Linked DNA regions of Homo sapiens. The protein of the gene in region 1 purifies or fractionates together with the protein of each later gene. This does not show direct contact. Each region holds a gene or a part of one and is shown in the gene's direction. Other genes may lie near its edges. The genes, in order: DNAJC7, VPS13C, STIP1 and BLTP2.

Region 1 (7,311 bases):
TGTGTGTTGTGATCAAGTCCTATTCCTTATTTTTCAACTTCTTCCACTGTTCCTCCCCCTCCAACAACACTCACCCACTACATGGTTCCCATACAGAAGCTGCTCCAGGATTGAAGTTTTGCCCACAGACGCCTGGCCACACACGACCACCTTGCAGCTCTTCCCCATGCTTAGTTTTCAACCTTGAAGAACAGAAGCACGCTGGGTAAGGTGAGGAAAGAAAGCATCAACACAGAAGGCAGTTACTAGCAGATGTTTTCTGGTGGACAAAAACAAAAACCAAAAAAACAGAAGGCAGAACGTCCATAACTGAGAGTTCTAAACTGAATGTATAGTTCTAAACTGAATGTATAGTTCCAGGGTTTCAGCACCATCCCAATGCTAGTCAGAGGAAACGGATGTCTCCATGTCTACTACTGGATGGTAAGCTGTTATTTTATTCGTCTTTGTTATCCCCAGTACCTAGCCAGTATCTGTCACAGGGCAGGTGCTTGGAAATGCTGCCATAAAGGGAGAGGAGAGTCACTGGCCACTGGGCCAGGTTCCCTTCTGTGCGCAAGATGTAGAGGACCAATTAGTAAAGGGAGCTCAGCCCAGCTTCCTCTCTTTAACCATGACCCCATGGAGAATTAAGCAGGAACAGTGTTTTGTGTGGCTGTCTGAAGCCATCTGCTCCCTGGGGGGACTGAGCAAATAAAAAGGATAATCTGGGGCAGGGCACGGTGGCTCACGCCTGTAATCTCAGCACTTCGGGAGGCCGAGGTGGGCAGATCACAAAGTCAGGAGTTCGAGACCAGACTGGCCAACATAGTGAAACCTCATCTCTACTAAACATACAAAAAATTAGTCAGGCGTGGTGGCGGGTGCCTGTAATCCCAGCTACTTGAGAGGCTGAGGCAGGAGAATCGCTTGAATCCAGGAGGCGGAGATTGCAGTGAGCCAAGAATATGCCACTGCACTCCAGCCTGGGCGGCAGAGCAAGACTCCGTCTCAAAAAAAGACAATCTGCTTTCCTGTACGACTCATCTGGACAACAATCAATTCCCTCTAAACTCCAGTCAAGTCTATGGCTAAAATGAACATAAGACAAGAGAGAAAAGAATGAAGAAACCTACGGAAAAAAAGGCTTCAGAAAGGACATACTTTTTGCTGCCCTTGGACTGACAGACACAAAAGAGAAAGCTCAGATACAGAAACCCTAAGAGGTCCCAGACAGATATCTCCCCGAAGGCAAACTTCCAAACACAAGCCCCCCAAAAGCTCCAGACAAAGATCCCCCCCAGAGAGCAGAGATAGATCACTCCCAAAGACGGTCCCTAACAGAAACCTCTCCAGGGGAAGCTCCTGACACAGACCCCCTCTCCATATAGCGAGCCCCACAATAAAGGACACCATAAGAGTGGGCCAGAGGTGCCTCCGCCACAGATTTTCTCACGGGGGAGCCCCCAGAGGGAATGAGAGGCAGAGACCAGCCACCTAAAGCGGCCCGGAGGCGGAGGCCGATCCTAGCGCCGGACGAGCCTCGCCTCCCAGGTCCGTACCTCCCGGGGCCCCCGCAGCACCAGCCGGGCCCTCCGAGCTCGCGGGGACCAGGGGAGGGGCAGCGCCGCCGCAAAGGCTCCAGTCTTCCTCCAGAGTCGGTGTAGGCTCCTCCAGGCCCCGCCCCCGCCGCCTGCCCGCTCCCCAGCTTCCGTCAGGCAAGACGAATTCCGGCAGCGGAGAGAGAGCGCGGACCGCGCAGCTCCCCCAGAGGCCGGCGGGAGAATGACGGCCAGGACCTGGCCTGGGTGTGCGCGGGAGCCCAAGGTTCTAGACTCCCTGGACGCGGGCCGCTGGGTGTTCTGGTGTCTCTGAGGCCCAGATGTTCTCTCTGTAAAGGCGATCAGAGTACAGTAACTCTTCGTTTACTCAATCATTTATTCGTCAAATGTTTTCTGAGCATCATCTGTCTGTGCCTGGTGCAGGGCCATATACTGAGAGAAAGTGGACGAGTTAGACATGGTGGCTGCCCATCAGAACTCACGGTCTAGAGAAGCTAGATGTCTAACAACTACTGAGGTGCTGTGGAGCACAGCAAAAGGGCATTTAACGTTGAGTCAGCAGACACTGAAGGGCCTGGGGGAAAGGGTGTTCTAGGGTGGAGGAAACGGCTACAAGTCATGGCATTTTCTGAAACTATGAGAACTTGGGTTCAATATTGGTGGTAGAAAGGACCTAAATATTGGTACTCAAATTAAATTATTTAAAAAAAGAAACAGATAATCAAAGGCTTTGTGTGGTAGGCCAAAGAGATCAAATTGACGGCAATGGAAAGCCATTGCCAATGAAGAGACATGATCAGTCCCTGAGGAAGGTCACTCTGGCAGAAGAGGGAAGACTGAACAGAGATGAAATTAGAGACCGATTAGGAGACTATTGATGTATTCCAAGTTTTTTTTTCTGTTGTTTTGTTGTTGTTGTTGTTGCCGTTTTTGAGACAGGGTCTTGCTCTTTTCTCCATGCTGGAGTACATTGGTGTGATCATAGCTCACTGCAGCCTCTAACTCCTGGGCTCAAGTGATCCTCCTGCCTCAGCCTCCCAAATAGCTGGGACTACAGATGCATGCCACCACACCCAGCCTATTCCAAGATTTTAAAAAATGATGAGCGCCTGAATCGGGATGGAAAGGTGGAGATAGATTTGGGAAATATTTGGTAGGAGAATCAACAAAACTTGGCAACAAATTGGAAGCCAAGAGTGAGAATGGTTTAATCCATTTAACAAGATACGGAATTTAGGAAAGATAATAATTACATCCAACATTTGTTTTTTCTGTTGTTGAGGTGTGGGTAGACAATGAAAAAGTTAAATTTAAATATGGTAAGCCTTGGGGATTTGTGAAACATACAAGAGATATCCAGTAGATAGTTGGATATACAGCTGTGGAAGCTGAAGAAAGGTCTAGGTTGGAGATATGAAAAGTTGAGAGTCATCAACAGATGGAAGTAAAGCTGTGGGAATAAATGAGTTGCCTTAGATAGAACATAAAGTGGGAAGATGGTGAGACAGGTTGGCTAGCATTAGACTGGACTATGAGCCACTGGCAGGCAGGGCAGGTGGTCTGTAAGTCTTGTGCCCTCACAACCTAGCACAGAGTAGGCGTTTTGGAAAGGGCTGAGTGATTGGCTCAACGAATGACCCCTCCTTTCCAACCTAGTGAGCTTGTCCTATCCCTCCCTACTCAGTGGTCGCTGTGGTTTCAGCTCCCTCCACACTGGGATAGGCAGAGTATGAGCATTGGCACATGCTGTTTTCCTGGAACAAACAGGTAAATCCTTTTAAAATTCCTTTGCCCTCTTCTTATTTTACTCTTAGCTTTACATTGTAAAGCTACTCCTCATACTCCTCCAATTTAACCCCAGAAAGCTCCAATTTAATTCAGCTCCACAAATAGTCGTTTGGGTGAGGGAATAACAACAAAGACAGTTAAACTGTGCCCTTGTCCCCTATGAATTCTCAATCCAGACCGCATTCGGCAAGGCAAGCGTGATGAGTAGAGAGTTTATATAAGAGGTGGGAGTACTGGGGACACAAGAGCAAGGACCTCACCCCGCGAGCTTCCTTATAAACTCCAGGGCAGGGTCTGGGGCGCCATGTGTCAGCTTTCCTAGGCTTAATGCTGAGATGGCACTCCCAGGCGGCTGACATGAAAGGAGCCTTGTAAAAGGGTCAGCGTCATTAGGGTGATGAACCAGTTGGTGTTTGGAGATCCGGAGTGGATGAAAGGCGCAGGGTGAAGACGCCCTGCGTTCCCCTGGCTTGACTGGGCAGGGCTTCCAGAGAACGATGAAAGCTGGGGGAACTGAGCTCAAAGTGTCTCTTGACTTTCCCGGGAAGAAGCTGTGGACACACTCCAAGGTCGGAAAGGTAGCAGTGGGGACTCCTTCCCTACAGAGTCTTGGGTCACCTGGTCCCCACGCAACCCAGACTCCACGGAGCCTTTCAGGAAGACTCTCTAGGATTGGAAGTTGCTATGGCAATGAGGCTCTTGGAATACTGAAAGCAGCCAAGCCCTAGAGAGGCTACCACCGGTACACCCCGCCTTCCCACCCACGGGTAAAGTGGCGCCGCCTACGCACCGGCACAGCCCCTGGGCTCCCGCCCCGGCGCGGAGACCACCGTGGACATCCGGGGGCGGGAGGCCGCTCTGGCCCCAAGCGGAGCCTCTCTCTGGTAGACGAGCCCGAGGGAGCCCTTCTGGGCGCGGCGCCGCGGAGCTGCTCTATGCTCCAACCGGAAGTGCTCTTCACCGCCGGCCTCCCACCCAGCTCTCTGGTCCCGGCGGTAAGATGGCGGCTGCCGCGGAGTGCGATGTGGTAATGGCGGCGACCGAGCCGGAGCTGCTCGACGACCAAGAGGCGAAGAGGTAACCGGGTAGCAGGGTAGTAGAGGAGGCGACCTGCAGCTCCGTGGCTCAGGGAAACTCGTTCCTGCCATGATGCAGCCCCCAGCTGTTGAGGCGATGCCCCGCCCTCCGCAAACACCCCCCCATCTGAGATCAAGGCCGGATGGACCCCCTGAAGGGGCGCTCTTGGGGGTCGGCCTTCCTCTCCCGCTTCCGCCTGGCGTAGGAGCTGAGGCATGGCCTTGTTCTCCAGCTGAGAGGACGATCGTCCTTATAGGAGAGGCCGAGTCTCCGAGGGCAATTTCAGAGGTCTGGTGCGAGGTGGGGGAAGCGGCGCGGCGTCGATGACGACTTCCTTACATCGCCCCCGACCCCCGCGTTCTCTTGTTAACTTCTGTGCATTGTTGCCTGTCTGCACTTTCCGTCTCCAAAACCTTTGCTCTCCTCACCCCGTTTTCCCTTGTAATTATACCCCAGCGATCACTAGTCTGGGTTCGAAGTGATTGTGTGTCTCCATAATTGACCTGGTTGCCCCCGGTTATCCCAGAAGTCAAAGATGACAGAGAAAAAAAGGAAGAGCGAGGGGCTTATCTCGTGTTCTCTACGTCAGACTCCTCTTCCCCTGTCCTTCCTGGGTGATCTTTATCCTTCCCAGCACTGTTCTTTCTTAAGTTAAGCACCAAGGAAGAGGGCAACTGCTTGGGCGCTGTTGGCACTCCGAAGCAGCCGCAGTGGTTCGAGATTGCCAGTCGGACTAGCCAAGGGAGCTGCTGAGTGAGTGGTTTTCGAGAACGCTCTAGATTCTGGCAACAGTTAGGCCAGATTATTGGAAGTGGGGTTGGAACAGAGTTGTGGGTAGTCATACTTGTTCTAATCCTAAAGCAGAATTGACAAGAAGGTTCTAGAAGTTTGGAGCCCTTTCCTTATCAGCTGCGGGTTAGTCTGACCCTTTTGTTCAAGATATCTACAGTGCCCTCAGTCTCTTTGCAACATACTTTATATCTTCATACCAAGCCCGTTGTGTCTTCAGGCTGGGTAATTTGAGGCGGTGATGTAGAATTAGTTCATGAGATCTGAAATCAGGATTCTGAGATTTTTACTATCTAATGAGTTCGAAATATAAGAAGTACTCGGACGCAATGAATAGTTATCAAGCTTGAGGGTGGTTACCACAGCCAGATCTCAAGTTCCTGATCTGCTGGGAGCTGAGGGGCCTGACAAAGTGTAATAGGCCCCTGGGATATCAGAGAAGCCAGGACACCAGAGTCCAGTCTCTGTTCTTAATTTTGAGCTTTCATGTTGTTCCTACTTCTTCCTAGATATTTAAAGCTAAGCATCATCAACCCTTATACATCATTAAAGAGCTGCACAATGGGAAACAAAATTCCTCCCAGTGCAGACGGAGCTTAAATTAATTGTAGAGATTTACTTGTATTTGGAAAGAGTTCAGTGGTTCTTTATACTGTAAATAGGGATTTGGCCACAGGTTATTTATTTTTTATTTTTTGAGACGGAATCTCGCTCTGTCGCCCAGGCTGGAGTGTAGTGGCGCGACCTCAGCTCACTGCAAGCTCCGCCTCCTGAGTTCACACCATTCTCCTGCCTCAGCCTCACCAGTTGCTGGGACTACACGTGCCCACCACCACATCCGGCTAATTGTTGTTTTTTTTTTGTATTTTTAGTAGAGATGGGGTTTCACCCTGTTAGCCACGATGGTCTCGATCTCCTGACCTCGTGATCCGCCCACCTCGGCCTCCCAAAGTGCTGGGATTACAGGCGTGAGCTACTGTGCCGGGCTGGCCATAGGTAATTTTAAAAACTCACCCTACTCATTGTAAATCTCTGATGTAGAGTGTCCCTATTTTGGACTTCATTTCATAGCCTCCTATCTTAAGCAAATACATTTCTTCAATCACAGCCTTAGAGGATAGTCTATCATAAAATTGGAGTAAATGAACCTGAAGACATATAATAAAATAGGTTATGCTGTAATGTGACCACATCACACAAAACATGGTATTTGATAGCAGTACAACAAAATAAGGTAAACTACCTTATTTCATGGAATTTAAGTGTCATTAGGCTGGGTGCAGTAGCTCACACCTGTAATCCCAGCACTTTGGGAGGCCGAGGCAGGTGGGTCAGCTGAGGTCGGGAGTTTGAAACCAGCATGGCCAACATGGCAGAACCCTGTCTCTACTAAAAATACAAAAATTAGCGGGGCGTGGTGGCACACACATGTAATCCCAGTTACACGGGAGGCTGAGGCAGGAGAATCGCTTGAACTCAGGAGGTGGAGGTTGCAGTGAGCTGAGATCGGGCCATTGCACTCCAGCCTGGGTGACAAAGTGAGATTCCATCTCAAAAAAAAGTCATTGATTGCAGAATGCAAATTATTTTATCTGTCACTAAGAAAATGTAACTGTAAATTAAACATGACAACATGCATTATTCCTGTAGTTCAAATAGTGACAGAAAAAAATTAATTAAAAAAAGAAAAAAGACTGGGCGTGGTGGCTCACACCTGTAATCCCAGCACTTTGGGAGGCCAAGGCGGGTGGATTACCTGAGGTCAGGAGTTCGAAACCAGCCTGACTAATACGGTGAAACCCCATCTACTAAAAATACAAAAATTAGCCAGGTGGGGTGATGCTGTAATCCCAGCTAGTCAGGAGGCTGAGGCAGAGGTTGTGGTGAGGGGAGATCATGCCATTGCACTCCAGCCTGGGCAACAAGAGCAAAACTCCGTCTCAAAAAAAAAAAAATCAATTAAAAAAAGAAAAAAATGCATTCTTATCAGACTTTTATGTTTCTCATATATAGCACTGTTTTCGACAGACTTAAACATAGTTATTTATTATATACCACTTTTTTGCACAAATCAAAAGGAAAATTGGCTGGGTGCAGTGGCTCACACTTGTAATCC
Region 2 (7,299 bases), on another chromosome or scaffold:
TATATTTTTTATAGACATGGGATTTTGCCATGTTGCCCAGGCTGGTCTCAAACTCCTGGGCTCAAGAGATCCCCCAGCCTCGGCTTCCCAAAGTGTTGGGATTACAGGTGCGAGCCACTAAGCCCAGCCTACTTCTTTGTCTTGAAATCACCTCTACTCTTTGCCAAAATTCTTGGGCCAGGGCTAAATCTATGGGAAAAGTTTTATCAAATTATATACTTGAGGGCCATGTGCATGTGTTCTGACTCAGCTTTTCCTGGGAGACAAGAATGTTGTTAGCCCTGTTGAGAGCTCTTGGTTAAAGTGATTAGGAGCACAGATCAGAGTTTACAGTCTGAGAAGTTGGCTGAAAAGTTGTTAAGCAAGTTAATGAACCTGTCTGAGCTCAAGTTATAAAATGAGGGTAATAATACCGACCACATTAAGATTGTTGTGGGGGTTAAAAAGATATGCATGAAAATGCTTGGTTGGCAGTTAAACACTAGCTAACAGTTATTATTATTACTATCATTTTATTATGAATGTTTGCTTGGGCAGGGATTAGCTGATTCATACATGGATTCCTTTAAAAACATTTTTCTCCTCAGGCAAGCAAAGCAGATCTACTTTGTTTTTATTAATGATTCACCTTCTTTAGTAACACCTTAATAGCATTTCCTGTACATGATTTTTTGAAAATAGCAGAGATTTGCCATTGCGTGGCTGGTCCCTGTGACCCTGTTAAGCCTTATGTTTTACTTAACTCGGAAGCACGAACCAACCACCCAGTACTTGGGAGAATGGTGTAACAGGGTGCCCGGAACACACAAATCTACTCACAGGAAGACAGTGGCTGTTCCAAGCTCCCAGCTGTAGCTGTGGGAACATCCAGTATTGGAGCTGGAAAACAATTCTGTAAAGTGAGCATGAATAGACCACATACCATCAAGACCAGAGGTGCTCTAAGAGTAAAAGGAAATTAAACATTTTAAAGCATACTTACAAAAATATAGGAGGTTGAGTGTCAAGGAAAGCAAGAAGAGAGATTACAACCAATAAAACACCAGTGTTCTGACTTATGCATCTTGTTCAACACAACTAGAGTATGGGGTACTGGAAAGAATACAGAGCAGGGAGTCAGGACACTTGGGTTTGGGTTTTTGCTCTGACAGTCACTAACTTGTGGGACTTTGGGCAAACCCTTAATTCTCCCTGGCACTCAGTGTCTCCATCTGTCAATTGAGGGGGCTGGATTAACAGGATGATCCTCCCTCTGGCACTAACATTCTGAAATCCACTCCCGTGCTTTCTCCTAGTTAACCTCCCTAACTTTTCCTGCAGTCCATGGTGTCATGGCTTATACTCCAGCTTTCTCCTCCATTTCCTTTCCCCCAAATTCCTTCTGCTTTTCTCCAAAAACTCTAGGGTTGGGGAATAGGGTATGGGTGGTGGTTAGTGTGAAGTTTTTTTTTTTTTTTTAAACACTTTTGAGTTAATTTTTAAGTGTCCCTAACTTATACTTTTGTTTTTAACAGAAATACTTTGCTCATCTGTTTTTATTGTTTAGTCCCTCATTGAAGTTTAGTTTTGTAATTTCCTTTGTTGTCATTCTCATTGTTCTTAAGCCAGAATGAAGGCAAGAACTATAATTAATTAGAATGCTCATTTTCTTTAACCTCTGTTATCCAAATTATTTCTGATATAATGCCATACATAAGGGTGCTAATGGTGTTTCTTGACATTGGTTATAGTTTGTTTTAAATTGGGACTGTATATTTCTGACTTGTTAAATAATGGAAGATTTGGGGCATTACTGAATGCACATAATCAATCCCTTAAAACATGCTGAAAATGGAAAATAGTAAAATTTAAAGCTTTTTATACTACATGATAATAGCATTTTTTTGTACCAAAAATGTAGAGCCAAATTTTCCACTCTGAGATTTATTTTTTCTGTCATGAACCTTTCAAAGTAAGATCTCTGAAAATGACTAATAGCCCAGTGTTGATTAAATTGTATAATTACCAGAAGAGAAAAGGGTGGCAGTGCTCAGAGAATCAAAGGAAATTAATATCTGCTGTGTGACTTTGGGTAAGTCACTTAACATTCCCGAGCTTAATTTTTCTGTAAAATGAGGACCATACTACTACCTGCATTAGCTACCTCACAGCTCTTTTGTGAGGAGTACACAAAAATGCCTACCTTCGCATAATAATGACATGAGGCCTTACAAAGTATAACTGAAACATAATAAAATTGAATGATGCATATGAAAGCACATTTACACATTATTCTTTCAAAATTACCAAGTTATACCATAGAACTGTAAGGAATTACTTTATTAGACAAAGCATTAGTGTTACTCACTTCTCCCAAGAGATTGTGCCTATTGCTCCACCTGCTTGACCAAGCTATGTTGCCTGTGCCATCTTTCCTATCATCTTATACTGTTATTCATACATCCTTGGATTGGCTTCTTTCTTAACTTTTTATGGTACATGCCTTATCTCAACCAGAACATATATTGCTTCTTTACATTCCTCTTGGAGCATAGTCAGTGTGAATGTAAAAAGGAAGCGGGATTGTTAGAGTGTATGACTAGAAAGAACGTGGAGAAAGTTTGAAGAGAGTGTTCTAAACACTGGGAAGTTATTGGATGTTTTTGAGCAGGTGACTAACCTAAGCTCACCTGTGCTTTGGGAAAACACATCCGGTGTTCATGAGAATAGACTGGAGGAAGGAATAACTGGAGGCTAGGAAGTGAATTTCAAGGAGATGGATGGCATGGTCCAGAAGAAAAACATGGAGAATTTAGGAAAGATGGCAAAAGCAAAATAGACAGGTTAGGCTGTTATTTGGTTGTGGATGGTGAAGAAATCCAAAGTACTTACTAGTATTTTGTCTTTGTGACCAGCTAGGAAAAACAGACGGTTAAGGATTTATCTTCTTAAAGAGGAATGGAGTGTGCAAAAGTGGGAGAGGAATGTGATCTTGATAGTACTAGTTAGTACTGACTGGGTCTTTCTTTGTACTTTTAATTTTATTTAATACACAACACCAATTGTAGCCATTTTGATTTTCTTTCTTCTCCAGCGGACTTTGAATTTAAGATTTTTCTTTGTGATCCTGTGCAAGCCTAGGTTGTTTAAGAAAAATACACGAATAGTTTCTCAGACACTTCCTCGTAGCAAAGCACTTATTAATGCTTGTGACTACAAATAATCAGCATTTCTTAGGTTTCTTCCTGTGTACTGTATCTCAACAACTTTTTGAAATATATTTTAGGAAAAAATTTCTAGTTCTCTAAAGAGGTGAATCTCAATGGGTGGTTAAATTTCACAAGGGTTGAAAGATCTTGTGGTATAAAAGCTCTGCTTTTAAGGTCGTGCTACATCAAAGACAGTTCAACGATAGCATGGAAGAAAGTGATATATAAATAACAAGTAACTCATACTTAAAAAGGCACTACTACGTTTTGTTTTTTATATCTGTAATGAGATAGGTAACTGGTTAGTGGCTAGTGAATTAAAAGCGAATCTTAGAGAAAGGGGAAAAGAACGCGTTTCCCACAAAACGCGTATATTCAGTTCTCATTCTATGATATCTGCCATTTGATGTGGTTCTGTTCCCCTCCTCCCACTTTCAAATTATTTGTCGCGCGCCAGTGGTCCCAGCTACTCGGGAGGCTGACACAGGAGGATCTCTTGAGTCCAGGATGTCAAGTCTGTAGTGAGCTATGATCCCGACACTGCATTCTACCCTTGGCAACAGAGCGAGACCCTGTCTCAAAACAAAACAAAACAGAAACAAAATAAAAAAACAATGTTTTCAAGAAGCAGAGACCAAGCCCCAGGCGGAGTCGAACTCTAGCAGGACAAGAACGCGGTCGGTCCCTTTCCCCCACCTGATCCACAGGTGCAGGGGTGGTTGCCTAGGTGACGCTCAGCGCATACTCCAGGCCAGGCGGCTCCGGACACCGCGATGCGGCCGGAGTTCAACAGCAGGTGACGGCGGGAAAGCAGAGCGGCCACATAGATGTCCCTGTACTCGGTAACTCTTGCCCTCCCTTGTTCTTCTCGAAGGTCCTTTTTTTTCTCGTGCACGGCTGACGAGACAGGCGCAAGCTAACTTCCCCCGCACTCCTCCGTCGGCCTCTAGAGGGCCAGGGCTGCGGCGCCTACAAAGCCTCGGGATCACAGCTGGGCCTCCTTAGCTACCGGCCGGGCGACAGCGCGCCTGCGCACCGGCGGGGTCACGCGCGCGGCGCGGGGGTGGGCCTGCGCCGGAGGGGCTGTCATTTGCAGCGCTGGTCGCAGCCCTCAGCTGCGCCGGGCGGTTCCGGCTCCTCCCTCTCCTTGTGCCTCAGCGCCACCATGGTGCTGGAGTCGGTGGTCGCGGACTTGCTGAACCGCTTCCTGGGGGACTATGTGGAGAACCTGAACAAGTCCCAGCTGAAGCTGGGCATCTGGGGCGGTAAGCGAGAGGGCGCGGCCAGTGGGCTGCGGGCGCTGAGGGCCCAGCCGAGGGCTGCTCCGTCCGGGATTCTGCCCGGGCCCTGCTCCCTGCGCCGCCTGAGACTCCCCATCCCGGTGCGGCAGGTGCTAGATGCGGGAGCCTCTGCCGCCCGCGGATTCTCGGGGTCCCAGTCCCGACTCCGGCTGGGGAGATGCGGCGGGATCCCGCCCGCGCTGCCAAAGTTCCCACCTTTCTCGTCCCCCGAGGCCAAGCCCTGGCCCTGCTGTCCCCGCCCTGCCCGTTTCTGTGGTCCTCTCGCTGCACTCAGGGTGGCCCCTTTGGCCCTACAGCATAAAAACAGAGCCCTTTCTGTTTCGGTATCGCGTGGAGTGAGCATGGTTGTCTGGTCATATACGCTCGAAGTGGCACTAAGAAAAAAGGAGGAAGTTGCATCTCGCAGTTATCTTCACTATCATTTTACAGGGAGCAAGAACTGGGTTCCTTCTCTTTAGGATTACCGGGTTTGGAGAGGAACGGGCAGGAGATCTTTAAGATAGGCGTGTGCTTAGGGATTCTTACTCTTAATGCTTTCAGCTCCTGTGAAAATGATTTCTTCCTTTAATATTTACTTTTCCGTCAATACGAAGAGGATTTTGAATTTTGTTTTGGAGCAATAGAGAGAAATTCAAGCCTCGACCAGCATCGTCATTAATTAGGTGTCTGCTTGGTTGCATGCTCAGGAATTTATGCCAACGTTTTTATCCTGGAGATTAAGTGTATAAAAGTATTCAGGAAATAGTGTACTTAAACATACACTCTTCAACGAGCTTAATCGTTTGCATGAATTACGTGTTAAGCTTTGAGGACTTTGGGACTTTCTCACTCCACAAAAGGTTTGGGAACTTTGTCAGCTTTGGAGGAAAATTCAAAAAACGACTCAAATGTATGGATCTGCTTTTAATTCAAGCAACAACAAATAGCTATAGACTTCCCCTGTCCACTAGGGTAACCACTAGCCACTGTAGCTGTGGAGCACTTGATATGAGGTTAGTGCTAATTGAGACTTGCTGTATGAATTAAAACATCGTTTTGAATAAGCATTACTCCTAATGAAGTAGGAGAAAAAAATAATACCTCAATAATTTTTATGTTGCTTATGTGTTGAAATAATATTTGAATATATTGGGTTAAATTAAATATAATATTAAAGTGTATTTCCCGTGTTTTTTAGTTTTACTTTTTTTCTTTTTAAACTTGGCTTCTAAAATTTATAATTACGTATATGGAACATATATTGGGCAATGCTGTTTATACCCTGAATTACGGAAGAGCCTGGTTGTTGTTGTTGTTGTTTTTTTTTTTTGGCTTGTCTTTTTGAGACAAGGACTTGCTCTGTTGCCAAGGCTGGAGTGCAGTGGCAAGATCGTAGCTCATTGCAGCCTCCAACTCCTGGGCTGAAGTGATCCTCCTGCCTCAGCCTCCCAAAGTGCTAGGATTACAGGTGTGAGCTATAGTGCCTGGCAAGAGCCTGTTTTTAATAGGTGGCTGATCATTTGATTGGTTCACTGTGGTTTGCCCAACAATACAATAGTCCCTTGGTATCTATGGGGGATTGGCTTCAGTACCCCTGACCATACCAAAATTGGAGGTTGCTCAAGTCCCTTAAATAAAATGGCCTAGTATTTGTATGTACCCTATGCATATCCTTCTGTATACTTTTGGTCATCTCTGGATTGCTTATAATACCCAATAAGTAAGTGCTATGTAAATAGTTGTTCTGTTGTTTTTTAATTTGCATTTTTTTATTGCTGAATTGATACTTTTTATTTTTTCCCCCCGAAATATTTTTGGTCTGCAGTTAGTTCAGTCCGTGAATATGGAGGGCCTACTGTACATTCTTTGTTTACATCCCCCCACCACACTCAATACAATGTAAAGGAAAGGTAAGTAAAGAAAGACACATTTAAGGAATTAAATGACCAGCATCTTCTGCAGAAATCAAGTATTTCTTCAGAATACTGGCAATATTCTTTCCAGTGATTCCTTATAGTTTGTAAACATTTGAAACTTGAAAACGCACCGGAGTAGCAAATCTGAAATCTGAATAGGCCTAGTGAATGGTGTGCTGTGTTGGACAAGCCACTTACCTTATTGGGCCTTAGTTTCTTCATCTTAATTTAAACTTTATAGAAAAAATATTTTTAAATTCTGAAAAGTTTAAATCATACTGGATGATATAATACTTTCATGTAATTACTCATATTTCAATGTTATAATATTATGCCATATTTACTTTAGACATTTTCTTTTTAAAAAGATAAAACGTATGGATATAGTCAGAGGTTCCATTGCCATCAAATGTTACTCTCTTTTATCTTTAAAATTGGAGGTTGGACTAGGTAACATCGAAGGTGATGCCAATATTCTGTTCTTCTGATAATGGTTTTACCATGACATTGAGGAGTATACTGCTTGAAGATTTTGAAGTTTTTCACAACTGAAATTAAAAATGTCGTAATTTTATGTTATTTCCCCTTTTGTCTTTTTTTGGTGAAATCTAGAAAAGGAGACTTTCTTTCATCTCATTTTTAAATTTTTAGAATAAGGTATTCTGCCAGTGGCCAACATTAACTTTATAATAGGCCTGAGCAAATAAACCCATTTCTTTCACATATTGTGTCTAGTGAACATCCAATCAGGGATTCTCCTAGCTTTATCAGCTCACAACTCTGCCTCTGTAAAGCTTTGCTGCCTTTTATTTTTGTGGTTGCTATAAAGCTAGAAGTCACGAGCTTTTATCATTATTGCACAGTCTGTTGTTGATAACCCTAATTTCTCAATAAAATTGGAAGGCAAGATATCTG
Region 3 (6,940 bases), on another chromosome or scaffold:
CACTGGAGGTAATGAGTTTGAGACCAGCCTGGCCAACATGGTAAAACCCCATCTCTACTAAAAATACAAAAAAAAAAAAAAAATTAGCCAGGCGTAGTGGCGGGCATCTATAATCCCAGTTACTCGGGAGGCTGAGGCAGAATCGCTTGAACCTGGGAGGCAGAGGTTGCAGTGAGCTAAGATCGCGCTACTGCACTCCAGCCTGGATGACAGAGTGAGACTCTGTCCCCCACCCCCCCCCAAAAAAAGAGAATTCTGGGTTGGGCGCGGTGGCTCACGCCTGTAATCCCAGCACTTTGGGAGGCTGAGGCATGTGGATCATGAGGCCAGGAGTTCAAGACCAGCCTGGCCAAGATGGTGAAATCCTGTCTCTACTGAAAACACAAAAATTAGCCGGGCGTGGTGGTGGATGCCTGTAATCCCAGCTACTCTGGAGGCTGAGGCAGATAATTGCTTGGACCCAGGAGGTGGAGGTTGCAGTGAGCCGAGATTGCACCACTGAACTCCAGCCTGGGAGACAGAGCGAGACTCCATCTCAAAAAAAAAAAAAATTCTGAATTTGCCCTGGCCTCAGCACCTTTGCATCTTCTGTGCCCCCTAGGCTTCTCCTCGTCCCATCTCTGACAAGCCTTCACTAACCACTCACCTCTGGGAATGCTTTCCTTCCCTGCCTCCCAGGTCATCTCTCTGTGCCTTGCCTTTTGTGTTCTCTGTAGCACTCACTCTTAAGAATTATCATTTGTGCACCGATTTTGATTTAATAACTCCATGTAGTTCTTATTCCGTAGCCAGGCAGTTCTTTTTTTTTCTTTGGAGACCGAGTCTTGCTCTGTTGCCCAGGCTGGAGTGCAGTGGCGCAATCTTGGCTCACTGCAATCTCCACCTCCCAGGTTCAAGTGATTCTCCTGCCTCAGCCCCCCAAGTAGCTGGGACTAGAGGTGTGCACTACCATGCGTGGTTAGTTTTTGTATTTTTAGCAGAGATGAGGTTTCTCCATGTTGGCCAGGCTGGTCTTGAACTCCTGACCTTAGGCAATCCCCAGGCACTCTTCTTCACAAGTTCTAAGTGCTTTATAAACTATCAAATCATGTAATCCTCACAACCACTATGATGTCAACACTTTTTAATCCCCATTTGAAGATGGAGGCAACTGAAGTACAGAGAGGTTGTGCAAGTTGCTTAAAGTCACACAGCTGAGAGTTTAGGTATCATCTGTTTCAGTAGAAAAGGTTCCTGTGAGCAGAAGCTTCATCTGGAGCTGCCCTGGTCACTGCTACAGTCCTGCACCCAGAGCAGTGCAACACACTTTAAAAAAAGGTGTGTGGGAAATGGGACCTGGCTACGCAGAGATAAGCTGCTGGGGAGAAGATGGAAGGCCTGGAAAGGCCACTGCTGGTCAGGTGGGCAGCAGCGTGGTGGCCTTGAGACAGTGCCAAGAAGAAATGAAAGGTGTCCTTGACAGAATGGATGTAGATGAATAAGAGAGGCAGCCAAGGCCTCAGAGGAACCTTTGACCCCGCTTTCCTTCATGCTCCCTCCAAAATGCATCCAGAATCCAATTCCTGTCCCCTCCTCTGCTCCCATCCTGGCTCCCTGGGATTACTACCACAGCCTCCTAAGAGGTATCCCTGCTCTCACCCTCCCCTCTTCCTCCACACAGCAGCCAGAGGGATCCTGAGAAAACTAAAATCATGTCACTTCTCTGCTCAAAACCTGCCAATGTGTTCAGGAGTAGCAATGGCCTCTAACCTTGCAGGACCTGGCCCCTGCTTCCTCTCGGCAGCTGTGCCTCCTGCCATCCTGGCTACCCTGAGGCAGCTCCCACCCCAGGCCCTTTGCACTGGCTGTTCCATAGGCCTGCAAGGTTCCCCCCTACATTTCCATGGATCTCACTCCCTTGCTTTCTTCAAGTCTTTTCTCACCGTGCCCCACAATTGAAAATGCAAAACCGCTGGGCACGGTGGCTCACGTCTGTAATCCCAGCACTTTGGGAGGCCGAGGCGGGGGGGGGGGGGGATCACTTGAGGTCAGTAGTCTTGAGACCAGCCTGGTCAACATGGTGAAACCCCGCCTCTACTAAAAATAAAAAAATTAGCCGGGCGCGGTGGCGCACACATGTAATCCCAGCTAACTGGTAGGCTGAGGCAGGATAATTGCTTGAACCCAGGAGGCAGAGGTTGCAGGGAGCCGAGATTGCCCCACTGCACTCTAGCCTGGGAGACAGAGCGAGAGTTTAAGACCAGCCTGGACAACATGGCGAAATCCATCTATACAAAAAAAAAAACAAAAAAAAAAAACCCAGAAAAATTAGCTAGGCGTAATGGTGCTTGCCTGTAACCCCAGGTACTTGGGAGGCTGAGGTGGGAGGATGGCTTGAGCTCAGGAGGTTGAGGCTGCAATGAGCTGTGATGGCGCCACTGCACTCCAGCCTGGGAGACAGTGAGATTCGACTCCGTCTCAAAAAAAAAAAAAAAAAAAAAAAAAAAAAAGCAGGCGGTTAGATTGCACAGGCCCTGAACCCCATCCTAAAGCCTCCAGCACTTTCAAGTGAGGGATTACCAGGTTTGCGGATCTGCTGCAACTTGGCTGCAGTGTCCAAAATGGGTGGGGCAGGTGGAATTAAAGATGAGGCTGTGGAGACAAGCTACTGGCAGAGAGGACACACTTTAAACCCTGGGAAGATATCATTACCCAGAGAGGGGGAAGGATGAGGACACTGCAGAGCCCAACATCATCGCCAGACCCGAGTCATGCGGCTCCTTTGTTCCAGGAACCAAGGCTGACCCTAGAAGCAATAGCAGCATTTTCACTCCGCAGGTGCATCTCTTCCACGCTTTGGGGTGCCTGCCCTGCCTCCGACTTCTGGGGCTGGGATTTAAGGCCCTACCAGGGCACAGCTCGCCAGCTCACAGGCGGTCAACTACTGATTCAGTTCTTCGTCTCCTTCACTCCTTTACATCGGACTCACGAGGGCTGAGGGGCAGCTCCCTTTCGTTAAGTGCTTCCCGCGTGCTCAACACCGCACGAATTCCCCTCGGCCCTACAGGACCAAACGACCGGCGCGCTGAGAAAGGGTGTGCGGTTCCACTGAGGACGCCCAAGCGGGACAGCCGGGCCCGCCGCGGTGAGATCCCCGGCCTGTCCAGCCCAAGCCCAAGCGCCCTCGCGGTCACGTGGCATTTCCGGAACATTCAGAACCTAACAGCCAGGAGGCAGGAGGGCCGGGCCGAGGCCGGAGCGCTGGACAACGCGGGTAGCTGGCGCTCGAGGGACAGGCAGCTCCCACCGGCTAGGACCCCCATCCCGATGCGCGGGCGAAGGGCTGGGGCCCTGTGCCGCTGGCGATCCCGGGGACCGCCTGGAACTCGCGGCACTCGGGAGCGAGAGGGAAAGCAACCCAGAGGCCCCGCAGCCGCCGGCGACACAGCTACAGACCCCGACTGCAGCCGGTACTCCCATATATCAGGGGCGGGGCGAAACCCGGCCTTTTGAAGGGCAGCGATTTAAACCAATCAGCGCAAAGAGTTGGCAACCCTCCGCCCAATTGGAATCGCTCTCATTCTGAAGGCGGTTCCGACATGGAGTCCGGCAGCCCAATGGGAGAGGTGGAAATTTCCAGAACGATCAGAACCAATGGGCGCGGCCAGCGCGGCTACGATTGGCAGTGCAAAAGACCAATCCGTGTCGCAGAAGTTCGCTCCTCCCTCCATTCGTGGAGCCTGAGATGGGTGGGTTTATAGAGGAGCGCCCAATCCTGAGGTGCGGGGGAGGCAGGGTTGAGGGAATTACTCCCCGCTGTCCAATGAGAAGGAAGTGGAGATGATGGGCTGGACCTCAAGCCAATAGTAGAGCAGCACAGACATTCCCCCTAGAAGAACTCGACCAGTGAGCAGGCGAGGAAGGGGCGGGAGCCGGGGTCCCGGTAGCTTCTAGTAGGTTCCAGAAGGCGGCGCGTGCGGTTGGGAACGCGGAGCGGACGGATTCGATTCAACGGGGTTCCGGACCGCGCTGCGCTATGGAGCAGGTGAAGGGGGAGGGGCGGGCTGAGGCCCCGAGCCTGCTCGGGGACCGGCGGTGGCCAGGCCGCGGTAGGGGGGCGGGGCGGGCGCCGGATCCAGGAGACCGGAGCTCGGCGCTGGGGCCGGACGGGGCGGCGGCGGGGAGGTGAGGGCCGCGGGCGGCGGGCGGGAGCGGGATCTTTAGCGAGGCCGGCCGCGGGGAGCGCCCATCGCCCCCTGGTTGGGCGAGGAGGGCCCGGCGGAGGCCACAGCTTGGGTGAGTCCGGCCGGCGGCGGGAAGAGGGGTCGCGACCGGGCCCTGAAGGCGTCCCGAGGGGGCGGCTGCGGGCCATGTTGGGGAGGGTGCGGGCCGCAGGGGGCGGGGTGGAGGTGGGCCGGGGGCCGGGGTCCGCACCCGCGAGGTAGCCCTCCGGGAGATCTCAGACGGCCGACGGAGAAACCGCTCGGGACTTAGCCACGAGGAACTTGGACGGATCCAGGGAGCGGGGACGGGGATACACTGGGAGTAGCCGAGGATCTTAGCAGCCTGGGATGCAGTTGGGGCAAATGTTACTCTTCTACATCTGAGAAGGTCAGGGTGGGAGAGCGTTGAGCGGGGGTCTGAGGAGCGACAGACCGACTCTACCTGATGCGGGAAAGGGAAGGGTGCCGCAAAAGTCCTTGGGACGAATTCCATCTCTGACAGTGTTTTACAAATGTATTGCGGCCCCTCCCCCTCTTTTTGTATGCTTGTGTGTGTGATTGTCGAGTGACCGAGGACCAACACTTCCGAAAGGTGGGTCTGAAAGATGGGTTTCTGACGACCCGGGGGTGGTTGTAGACAATTTACAGAGATCAACCGCTGGAAGTTATGGGCCTCTACTGAGCATTTGAGGGGCCGAGTTTGAAGCGGTTGCTGCTTCCTTTCAGTGACTTGGTTATGTCCTCAGTAGCTTGCGGTTATGAAAGGCCTAGAGGTTTTGTTCGATTTGAAGCTGTCATTGAGCTGTAATGATTCATCGGAAGAAAAAGGACAAAACAACCTCCAAGAAACCTCTACCAACCTCCGAGAAATCATCCTCCCGCTCGGGAGTACTACTGTCTTCGCTCCGGGCCCATAACACTTGGGGGTGACAATTCTGAAACTATACCTGGTATCTGGTTCTTACTTCAGGGCCATAAAACTAAGATCGCCCACACTCTCCCCTTAAATAAGACATCTCGATGGACTAGTGACTACCATCCTTTTTTTGGTGTGAGCTACAGAGCTGAGCCTTTGGTCTCTTGTAGCAGTTGCTGCTTTAGGCAAAGCTCGAGCTTCCTTGCTGTATTAAAAAGAGTGGAAATGAAGTTAGTAAACTTTTTTGTGCCCATATAATATTTCAGTTGTATCTAGGGTTAAATGGGCTGTAGTATAGGTGAGGAAAAGATTTCTGGAATAAGACGTTGCTCTTTTACCTTTAAGAAAGGATCTGGGGCCGGGCACCGTGGCTCAGCCTGTAATCCCAGCACTTTGGGAGGCCGAGGCAGGCGGATCACGAGGTCAGGAGATCGAGACCATCCTGGCTAGCACAGTGAAACCCCGTCTCTACTAAAAATACAGAAGAAAAATTAGCCGGGCGTGGTGGCGGGAGCCTGTAGTCCCAGCTACTCGGGAGGCTGAGGCAGGAGAATGACGTGAACCCTGGGGGCAGCTTGCAGTGAGCCGAGATTGCGCCACTGCACTCCAGCCTGGGCCATAGAGCGAGACTCCGTCTCCCTCCAGCCTGGGCCACAGAGCGAGACTCCGTCTCAAAAAAAAAAAAAAAAAAAAGGATCTCGGCTGGGCGCAGTGGCTCACGCTTATAATCCTAGCACTTTGGGAGGCCAAGGTGGGCGAATCACCTGAGGTCAGGAGTTCTACACCAGCCTGGCCAACATGGTGAAACCCCCTCTCTACTAAAAGTACAAAAATTAGCGGGTCATGGCGCAGGCCTGTAATCCCAGCTATTGGAGAGGCTGAGATAGGAGAATTGCTTCAACCCGGGAGGCGTAGGTTGCAGTGAGCTGTGATCACGCCACTGCACTCTAGCCTGGGTGACAGAGTGAGACTCCATCTCAAAAAAAAAAAAAAAAGAAAAGAAACGATTTCTGTTACCAAATTTATTTTGTATTTTTTTTAGAGACAGGGTCTGGTTCTGTGGCCCAGGCTGAAGTGCCCTGGTGGGATCATAGCTCACTGCAGCCTCAAGTTCCTGGCCTCAAGCGATCCTCCTGCCTCACTCTCCTGAGTAGCTGGGCACACCACCACAACTGGCTAATTTTAACATTTTTTGTAGAGACGGGGCTCTTGCTGTTTCCCAGGCTGGTCTCGAATTTCTAGGCTCAAGCAATCCTCTAGCCTTGGCCTCCCACTTCATTAGCACTAGGATTACAGGCGTGAGTCACCTTGCCTGGTCTTAAAATGTTTGTTTTTAAATTACCACTACTGGTGATAGAAGTGTATGTACAGGTAGGTAGATGGTGAATGAATATTTGACTTAGGACAGCAAACTGGCATGGCAGCTGTACAGATGACCTGGCATTTAATCCCAGGTGTGTTTGAGCCCACCATCTGGAAGCCATTCCTGAAAACAAACACGATTTCTCTACCTTTTGTTTTCATTTTCAACTGTGAGGTTTGTATTTCAGTTTAGAAAATACTCAAGTTGGGCCGGGTGCAGTGGCTCACACTTGTAATCCCAGCACTTTGGGAGGCCGAGGTGGGCGGATCATGAGGTCAGGAGTTTGAGACCAACCTGTCCAGCATGGTGAAACCCCGTCTCTAGTAAAAATACAAAAGAAAAAAGAAAAACTGGGCCGGGCGTGCTGGCTCACGCCTGTAATCCCAACACTTTGGGAGGTTGAGGCGGGTGGATCACGAGGTCAGGAGCTCAAGACCAGCCTGGCCAATATGGTGAAAC
Region 4 (7,023 bases), about 13 Mb from region 1:
TTGGAACCAGCCAGCTGAGGCACAGCAAGCCCAGCAAGTCCAGCGGATCATTTCGCGTTGCAACTGCCGAATGTACTATATTAGTTACAGCCATGACATTGATCCTGAACTAGCAACTCAGATTAAGCCACCTGAAGTTCTTGAGAACCAGGAAAAGGAAGATCTCCTAAAGAAGCAGGAAGGTATTCAGGGCTTGAAAGGCTTTTAGGAAGGGACTAGAGAAATTGTGAAAGTAGTTATTTCCTTGGTGGTTTTGAGACAGTAGAGTTATTAAAAATCCACTGTGCACTGGCATTAACATTTCACTTTGCTCTACTTTTTGTAAGTTCTGCTATGAGAAAATAACCTCTATTCTTGGAGGGAGCTGGGATGAATGGGCATTGTTTATGATTCTGAAGTAAACATGTTTCTGCCCATGAGCAACTCTCACCCTTTCTGTGGGGTTGACTAGTGGGGTGGTTCCAAATGTGGGTTAAGAGATGGAGTAGATATTTAGGTAGAAACTTGAGCCTTTTATTTAGCTGCTAACAATTATCTAGGGGCTGTGGATACCTTCACCCTTATCCACCATGAGCTGGAAATTTCCACCAACCCAGCTCAGTATGCCATGATCCTGGACATTGTCAACAACCTGCTGCTCCATGTAGAACCTAAGCGGAAGGTGAGCATGGGCCCTTGTAGAATGCTGGTTAGCCTCACAGGAACACCCAGACTTTGTGCTTTATTTGGGCTTCTGTAACAAAAGCCATGCTTCACACTGAAAAAGGGCCTTGTGGTTGGTAGATTCTCTTAGTCGGCAGTGACAATTGAAATTCCACTTACTTAGGAAAGGCCTGAATATCTCTCAGACCGTAGGGCTTGTTTGCCTGATTGTTTTCTCCTAGTCATTTCTCTACTCAGTCACCTAGACACCTCTAAAAACATTTACTATTCCCTGCTTCCACCTCCATCCCATCCTGTTGGGCCTGACCTATTGTGAAATCCACATTGCCACATTTTCTGCATTGACCTACTACTGTTGCTATTACCAGTGACAGATAAAGGTTAGCTTTCTAGAAGAGACCCCCCCCATTTCTTTCTCCTTTCTCTATTTCACTTTACTACAAGACTTGTCTACTTAAAAATCATATTCATTTCCCTTTCCATTCCTTTAGGAACATAGTGAGAAGAAGCAACGGGTCAGGTTCCAGCTTGAGATCTCTAGCAATCCAGAGGAGCAACGCAGCAGCATACTGCATTTGCAGGAGGCTGTGCGGCAGCATGTGGCCCAAATACGACAGCTGGAGAAGCAGATGTATTCTATCATGAAGGTAGTCACTGCAGATAGATAGTTTGAGAACCAGGAAGTCTCCTAGAACGAGGGCGGTCTCTCAGTTTCTATCCTGGTTCCCTAGTCTTTGCAGGATGACAGCAAGAATGAGAATCTGCTTGACCTGAACCAGAAGCTTCAGTTGCAGCTAAACCAGGAGAAGGCCAACCTGCAGCTGGAAAGTGAAGAACTGAATATCCTCATCAGGTGCCCCAGCATTCTTTCCTTGCCCTTTTCCAGTGCCCCAGCTAGAGGCAGTTCTCTTTCTTGCCCATGTTTTGACTGTCTTTAGGTCTAGTGTGCATTATCAAAGGCTGATGTAGGAGTAGGTTCAGACATCTCTTCCTGAATAAGAAAATGGGTAGTTGGGAAGGATCACTTTTTTTTTTTTTAGAGACAAAGTGGTCTCACTATGTTGACCAGGCTGGTCTGGAACTCCCGGGCTCAAGCAGTCCTCCTGCCTTGGCCTCCCAAAGTGCTGGGATTACAGGCGTGAGCTGGGATTACCACACCCAGCTGAAAGATCACTTTGGTGGCCTTGATACTATGCATCTGAACTGAAAATATCTTTTTTTTTTTAATGAACCTGACATAAACATATGAAAATGTCTTGAAGTTGATCAGTATACAGTTGCAGATAAAATTGTAGGAATTATTAGTGGGAAGACACTACTTTATCAAGAAGCTATAGAGCTGAAAGATGGGATTTGTGCTCCTATGACCTAGAATGTCAGGAGCAATAAATTCAGTGAAAAAAATGTAGGGACTGGCTAACCCAGAATAGGTTAATTTCTGGGTTTACCTCCTGCATCATTCTAGAGCATTCTATCCCACCCCCAACCCATGTGCTGTTTCCCTTACTGGCTTTGGCTCCCCTGTCCACTTACAGGTGTTTTAAGGATTTCCAACTGCAGCGGGCTAACAAGATGGAGCTGCGAAAGCAGCAAGAAGATGTGAGTGTGGTCCGTCGCACTGAGTTTTACTTTGCTCAGGCACGGTGGCGCCTGACAGAGGAAGATGGACAGCTGGGAATTGCTGAATTAGAACTGCAGAGGTTCCTCTACAGCAAGGTATCTGGGGTATATGGTCACACAAAGGCAGCTGTATTGAGAGACATTGACCTAGCTTAGGAGTCTAACTCATAAAAGAGAAATAAAAGGGGGTTAATTATTGTATGATTATTAATGATAGTATCATTAATATTAACGAGCTCATTAATCATATTAATGAGCAGAGCTTCCTTAGATATATCTGTTTATAATGAATGATACACATATAGCTCTGATGCCATAGGGGGAGAGTAAGAATGAACAAAGAAATAAAATAATTTTTAAAAAATGATACAGGCCACGTGTAGTGGTTCATGCCTGTAATCCCATAACTTTGGGAGGCTGAGGTGGGAGGATTGCTTAAAGTCAAGAGTTCAACAAAAATTTTAAAAATTAGCTGGGCATCGTGGTGCATACCTGTGGTCCCAGCTACTTGGGAGGCTGAGGCAGGAGGATTGCTTGAGCCCTGGAGTTCGAGCCTGCAGTGAGCTGTGATCACACCACTGCACTCCAGCCTGGGCAACAGAGTGAGACCCTGTCTCTAAAAAAGAAAATAAATAATTAAAAACATATATGATAGGCCGGGCACGGTGGCTCACACCTGTAATCCCAGCACTCTGGAAGGCCGAGGCAGGTGCATCACCTGAGGTCAGGAGCTGAAGACCAGCCTGGCTAACATGGTGAAACCCCATCTCTACTAAGAATACAAAAATTAGCCAGGCGTGGTGGTGCACGCCTGTGGTCCCAGTTGCTTGAGAGGCTGAGGCAGGAGAATCGTTTGAACCTGGGAGGTGGAGGTTGCAGTGAGCCGAGATCGTGCCACTGCACTGCAGCCTGGTGACAGAGCAAGACTCCATCTCAAAAAAAAAAAAAAAAAAAAGAAAATTGGGTGTGGTGGTGTGTGCCTGTAAGCCCAGCTACTCAGGAGGCTGAAGCAGGAGAATCGCTTGAACCCAGGAAGGAGATGGATGTTGCGGTGAGCCAAGATTGTGTCACTGCACTTCAGCCTGGGCAACAGAGTGAGACCCTGTCTCAAAAAAATAAAAATAAGATACAGATACAGGTGAGTTTGATCAGATGCTTCTCTTGTTGAGTAAGAAGATGATCCCTAGAAGTATGGCCCAGAGGCAAATAATCTTTCATGTCTAGCTTGGAATAGAATATTCTAATACTGACATTCAGCTTTTCTGCCATTGACGTAAAGAAGGCAGTATTATTTATTACTTTCTCCTACCAGAGGCGTTTGGAAATGAATTAGAACATTTTTTAATGTCACAATGGCTAGATAGTACTACCAGCATTTAGTGTCCTGGACAATAGTGCCCATGAGACACACTGGATTAAAGAGTGTTGATTGTATGAGTTTGAAGGAGATCTCAAGGTTGGGATTAGGCATATGTAGAGCCTGAAAACAAACTGGATACATAACAATTGTCTAGTAGACTTCTGAGAAAGGTTTATTATAGTAGATGGGGCAAAATCTGTCTTTATAGGTGAATAAGTCTGATGACACAGCAGAACATCTTCTGGAGTTGGGCTGGTTTACCATGAACAACCTCCTCCCCAATGCTGTCTATAAGGCAAGTCTTTTTTCCCCTTTCCTAGTCCATTTGCATGTTTTTAGCACGGGGCATTTATAACGGCCCTTCAGTATAAATCCACTATGGAAAACAATGTGGTGATCTGAGAGGGTGAAAGCTTGCCCAGCTTAGCAGTACCATTGCTTCTCCTCTCATTCTGCAGAGGATTTGTGGGTTGCTTTATGGCAGGAAGGACATTGGGTTGGGCTCTTCTTTACTCTCTATCCTACAGGTAGTACTGCGGCCCCAGAGCTCCTGCCAGTCTGGGCGACAGCTAGCTCTCCGCCTCTTCAGCAAAGTTCGGCCCCCTGTTGGGGGTATCTCTGTTAAGGAGCATTTTGAGGTTAGTAAGCAGTCCCTTAGGGACCTGGGAACAAGGGACATTCAAAAGCCACCTGTGTGTTACACGATATTAGGAGTAGGTAAACTGATGATGGTATCTGAGCTTAATTGCTTCTTGAATCTTTTTCCTTTTTAGGTAAATGTGGTGCCTCTCACCATCCAGCTGACACACCAGTTCTTCCACAGAATGATGGGCTTTTTCTTTCCTGGCCGAAGTGTGGAAGATGATGAAGTTGGTGATGAAGAGGATAAGTCCAAACTGGTGACTACTGGTGAGAACTTTTATGGTGGAGCCCCAGAAGAATAGGGTAGCAACCCCAAAGACAGCTGAGACTTCAGAACGAGGATGGATGACAGCTGGTACACTTGCTTTTTCATAGGAATACCAGTGGTGAAGCCTCGGCAGCTGATTGCAACAGATGATGCAGTACCACTGGGCCCTGGGAAGGGTGTGGCACAGGGTTTGACTCGGAGTTCTGGGGTCAGAAGGTCATTTCGCAAATCGCCAGAGGTACCAAACATGCCCCTGATGATAGAAAAATGGGAGAGTCTTGAGGTCCTGTTTGGTGTGGCTTGGGATTTCTTCGGTTTCCTCTAAGTCCATTCTAGGGATAAAAGAAGAGGGAGATGTTTGGGGTCCTGAGTTTCTTCTGATGGATTCAGGGCTCACACTCCTTGCCTGCCTTTCTTAGCACCCTGTGGATGACATTGACAAGATGAAAGAGCGAGCTGCCATGAACAACTCCTTCATCTACATAAAGATTCCACAGGTTCCACTGTGTGTCAGCTACAAGGTCTGCACCTCTCAAGCACTTTGTAGAACAGGGTGGGAAGGGAACCAGATAAGATCAGAGATTCTATACAGGGAGACAGCTAGGTTGTTTGTGATGCTGAGCTGTGGGTGATAAATCTGCTGTTCCCTCTGCTCCCCTCAAGAGTCAGCATCATTACGAGGCTGAGGTAAGGGGAAATCAGTATCTGTAGGTTACTATTGTAGGACTTGGCACTCAAGTGGCTGGCTGGGACTCAAAATGGCAGCTGATGTATTCCCCACCCCTCTTTTTTTCTTTCCCCTCCCCCTCCTCTTACAGGGTGAGAAGAACAGTGTGGACTGGGGTGACCTTAACCTGGTGCTGCCCTGTCTGGAGTACCACAACAACACATGGACATGGCTAGACTTTGCCATGGCTGTCAAAAGGGACAGCCGCAAAGCCCTGGTTGCCCAGGTATCCCGCCAGGGCTCATGGCTGTTTGGCTAATGGGGCTGGCAGGCAGATCCTCTTTTCAGGAGCCTTTCATTTTAGAATCCATGAATAAATATCCTTGGGAAGGGGCAGGTGCATGAAGTGAGTGGCTTCTATGCCTACCCTCTCCATGACCTCACTCAGATTATTAAATTCAGTGTTTACTGAGTGTTTCGTATAGCACCATTGATTTTAGGGAACTGAGAGCTAACACAACCTAAAGTTTAGAAGGGGTTATAATTAGACTGTAAGCTTCTTGAAAGCAGAGACCATTGTATGTGAATTGCCCCATTGTGCCTTGGATGTGTTTAATAAATCTTTATTGTCTTGGTTCATTTTGATTTATTCTGCCTGCCCACTAATATTTACATTTTCTTTTACTCCTCTCCAATCTGCCAGGTAATCAAAGAGAAGCTAAGGCTGAAGTCTGCAACAGGCTCTGAGGTCCGGGGAAAGCTAGAAACTAAATCGGACCTGAACATGCAACAGCAGGAAGAGGAGGAGAAAGCCCGGCTCCTCATTGGTTTAAGTGTGGGCGACAAGAACCCTGGCAAGAAGTCCATCTTTGGCAGGCGCAAATGATTTGGCGATTCGAGTGGCTGCAGTACAGGATCTGACTCTGGCTCAGGCTCCAGGGACTTGTGGGGTGGGAGGGGCTTCCCGTTATCCACGAGGATTTGTGGGTGTCAGAGCCCATAGGCATCACTCTTCAGCACCTGGTCTGTTCGCTGCAGGGCATGGTGGACAGTAATGCTGAGTTCTGTCTCACACTGATCAGGCTCAGGGCCAGAGAGGCAACAAGAGAGCAAGACCCAGGGAATGGGCCCAGGGCAGGACCCTATTCCCTTGGGGTCAAGTGAAAGGGTAGGGGGATAGTCCTGATCAAGTGTGATAAATTTTTATAGACATATATAAATATATATATATTATATATATATTTCTAAGTGTAACTGTCCTTCCTCTGTGCCAGGAAACGGGAGGGGGCTGATCCTCTGATCCTCACTCCACTGTCATGTTTGAAAGAGGTATTGGTGTTCTGGAGTGGGGGTCAACCCCTCCCCAGTCTCTGTGCTAAGTTCACTTGGGAGGATGGCAGTAGGAGCCAGGGCTGGCCATGGGTCCCCTACCCTTCCCCGTAGGATATACCCTGGAGAATGGCAAAATGATTTAAAGAGAAAAAAAAAGATATTTTAAATTTGATGCTCATTTTTGTGTGTGTGTGTTGAGTGCATGCATTCAATCTGTGTATTCCTCCCTCATCAACCCAGAACATCCTGCAGCTGCCACTCTGAGGGTGGCCCCTTCCTTCCTCTGCCCTGAAGCTGTATCACAGAAATTTCTAGTCCTAGTGTGACTCTGGCCCCATGCTGATGGGTTTCTGCAGACTGGAAGAGGCGGGGCTCGTGTCACGCAGCATCAGGGAGAGGAATTGCTTATATAACTGGGACAGCAGATTTAGCAGAGAGAGGAGGCAGAGGCTGGGAATGGGAGCAGTAAGC

What was found.
Region 2: the proteins of DNAJC7 (region 1) and VPS13C purify together in Homo sapiens (co-immunoprecipitation; 5 studies listed by BioGRID and IntAct, with this or other methods). This does not show direct contact.
Region 3: the proteins of DNAJC7 (region 1) and STIP1 purify together in Homo sapiens (affinity purification with mass spectrometry; 4 studies listed by BioGRID and IntAct, with this or other methods). This does not show direct contact.
Region 4: the proteins of DNAJC7 (region 1) and BLTP2 purify together in Homo sapiens (co-immunoprecipitation; 4 studies listed by BioGRID and IntAct, with this or other methods). This does not show direct contact.

Annotation. Positions count from the first base shown.
Region 1 is NC_000017.11:42,014,435-42,021,745, reverse strand, and holds the start of DNAJC7 (dnaJ homolog subfamily C member 7), read left to right. Parts: upstream 1-4,306; 5' UTR 4,307-4,329; coding exon 4,330-4,406; intron 4,407-4,583; exon of another isoform or gene 4,584-4,706; intron 4,707-7,311. Other genes in the region: NKIRAS2 (NF-kappa-B inhibitor-interacting Ras-like protein 2), read right to left, coding at 75-168. UniProt on the Homo sapiens protein: Acts as a co-chaperone regulating the molecular chaperones HSP70 and HSP90 in folding of steroid receptors, such as the glucocorticoid receptor and the progesterone receptor.
Region 2 is NC_000015.10:62,057,429-62,064,727, reverse strand, and holds the start of VPS13C (intermembrane lipid transfer protein VPS13C), read left to right. Parts: upstream 1-4,280; 5' UTR 4,281-4,353; coding exon 4,354-4,453; intron 4,454-7,299. UniProt on the Homo sapiens protein: Mediates the transfer of lipids between membranes at organelle contact sites. Necessary for proper mitochondrial function and maintenance of mitochondrial transmembrane potential.
Region 3 is NC_000011.10:64,182,247-64,189,186, forward strand, and holds the start of STIP1 (stress-induced-phosphoprotein 1), read left to right. Parts: upstream 1-3,924; 5' UTR 3,925-4,015; coding exon 4,016-4,024; intron 4,025-6,940. UniProt on the Homo sapiens protein: Acts as a co-chaperone for HSP90AA1. Mediates the association of the molecular chaperones HSPA8/HSC70 and HSP90.
Region 4 is NC_000017.11:28,614,147-28,621,169, reverse strand, and holds the end of BLTP2 (bridge-like lipid transfer protein family member 2 isoform 1 precursor), read left to right. Parts: coding exon 1-182; intron 183-539; coding exon 540-661; intron 662-1,154; coding exon 1,155-1,310; intron 1,311-1,394; coding exon 1,395-1,516; intron 1,517-2,198; coding exon 2,199-2,379; intron 2,380-3,792; exon of another isoform or gene 3,793-3,851; coding exon 3,852-3,938; exon of another isoform or gene 3,939-4,170; coding exon 4,171-4,281; exon of another isoform or gene 4,282-4,416; coding exon 4,417-4,552; exon of another isoform or gene 4,553-4,660; coding exon 4,661-4,791; exon of another isoform or gene 4,792-4,885; intron 4,886-4,972; coding exon 4,973-5,074; intron 5,075-5,371; coding exon 5,372-5,506; intron 5,507-5,923; coding exon 5,924-6,106; 3' UTR 6,107-6,724; downstream 6,725-7,023. Other genes in the region: RSKR (ribosomal protein S6 kinase-related protein), read left to right, coding at 7,009-7,023. UniProt on the Homo sapiens protein: Tube-forming lipid transport protein which binds to phosphatidylinositols and affects phosphatidylinositol-4,5-bisphosphate (PtdIns-4,5-P2) distribution.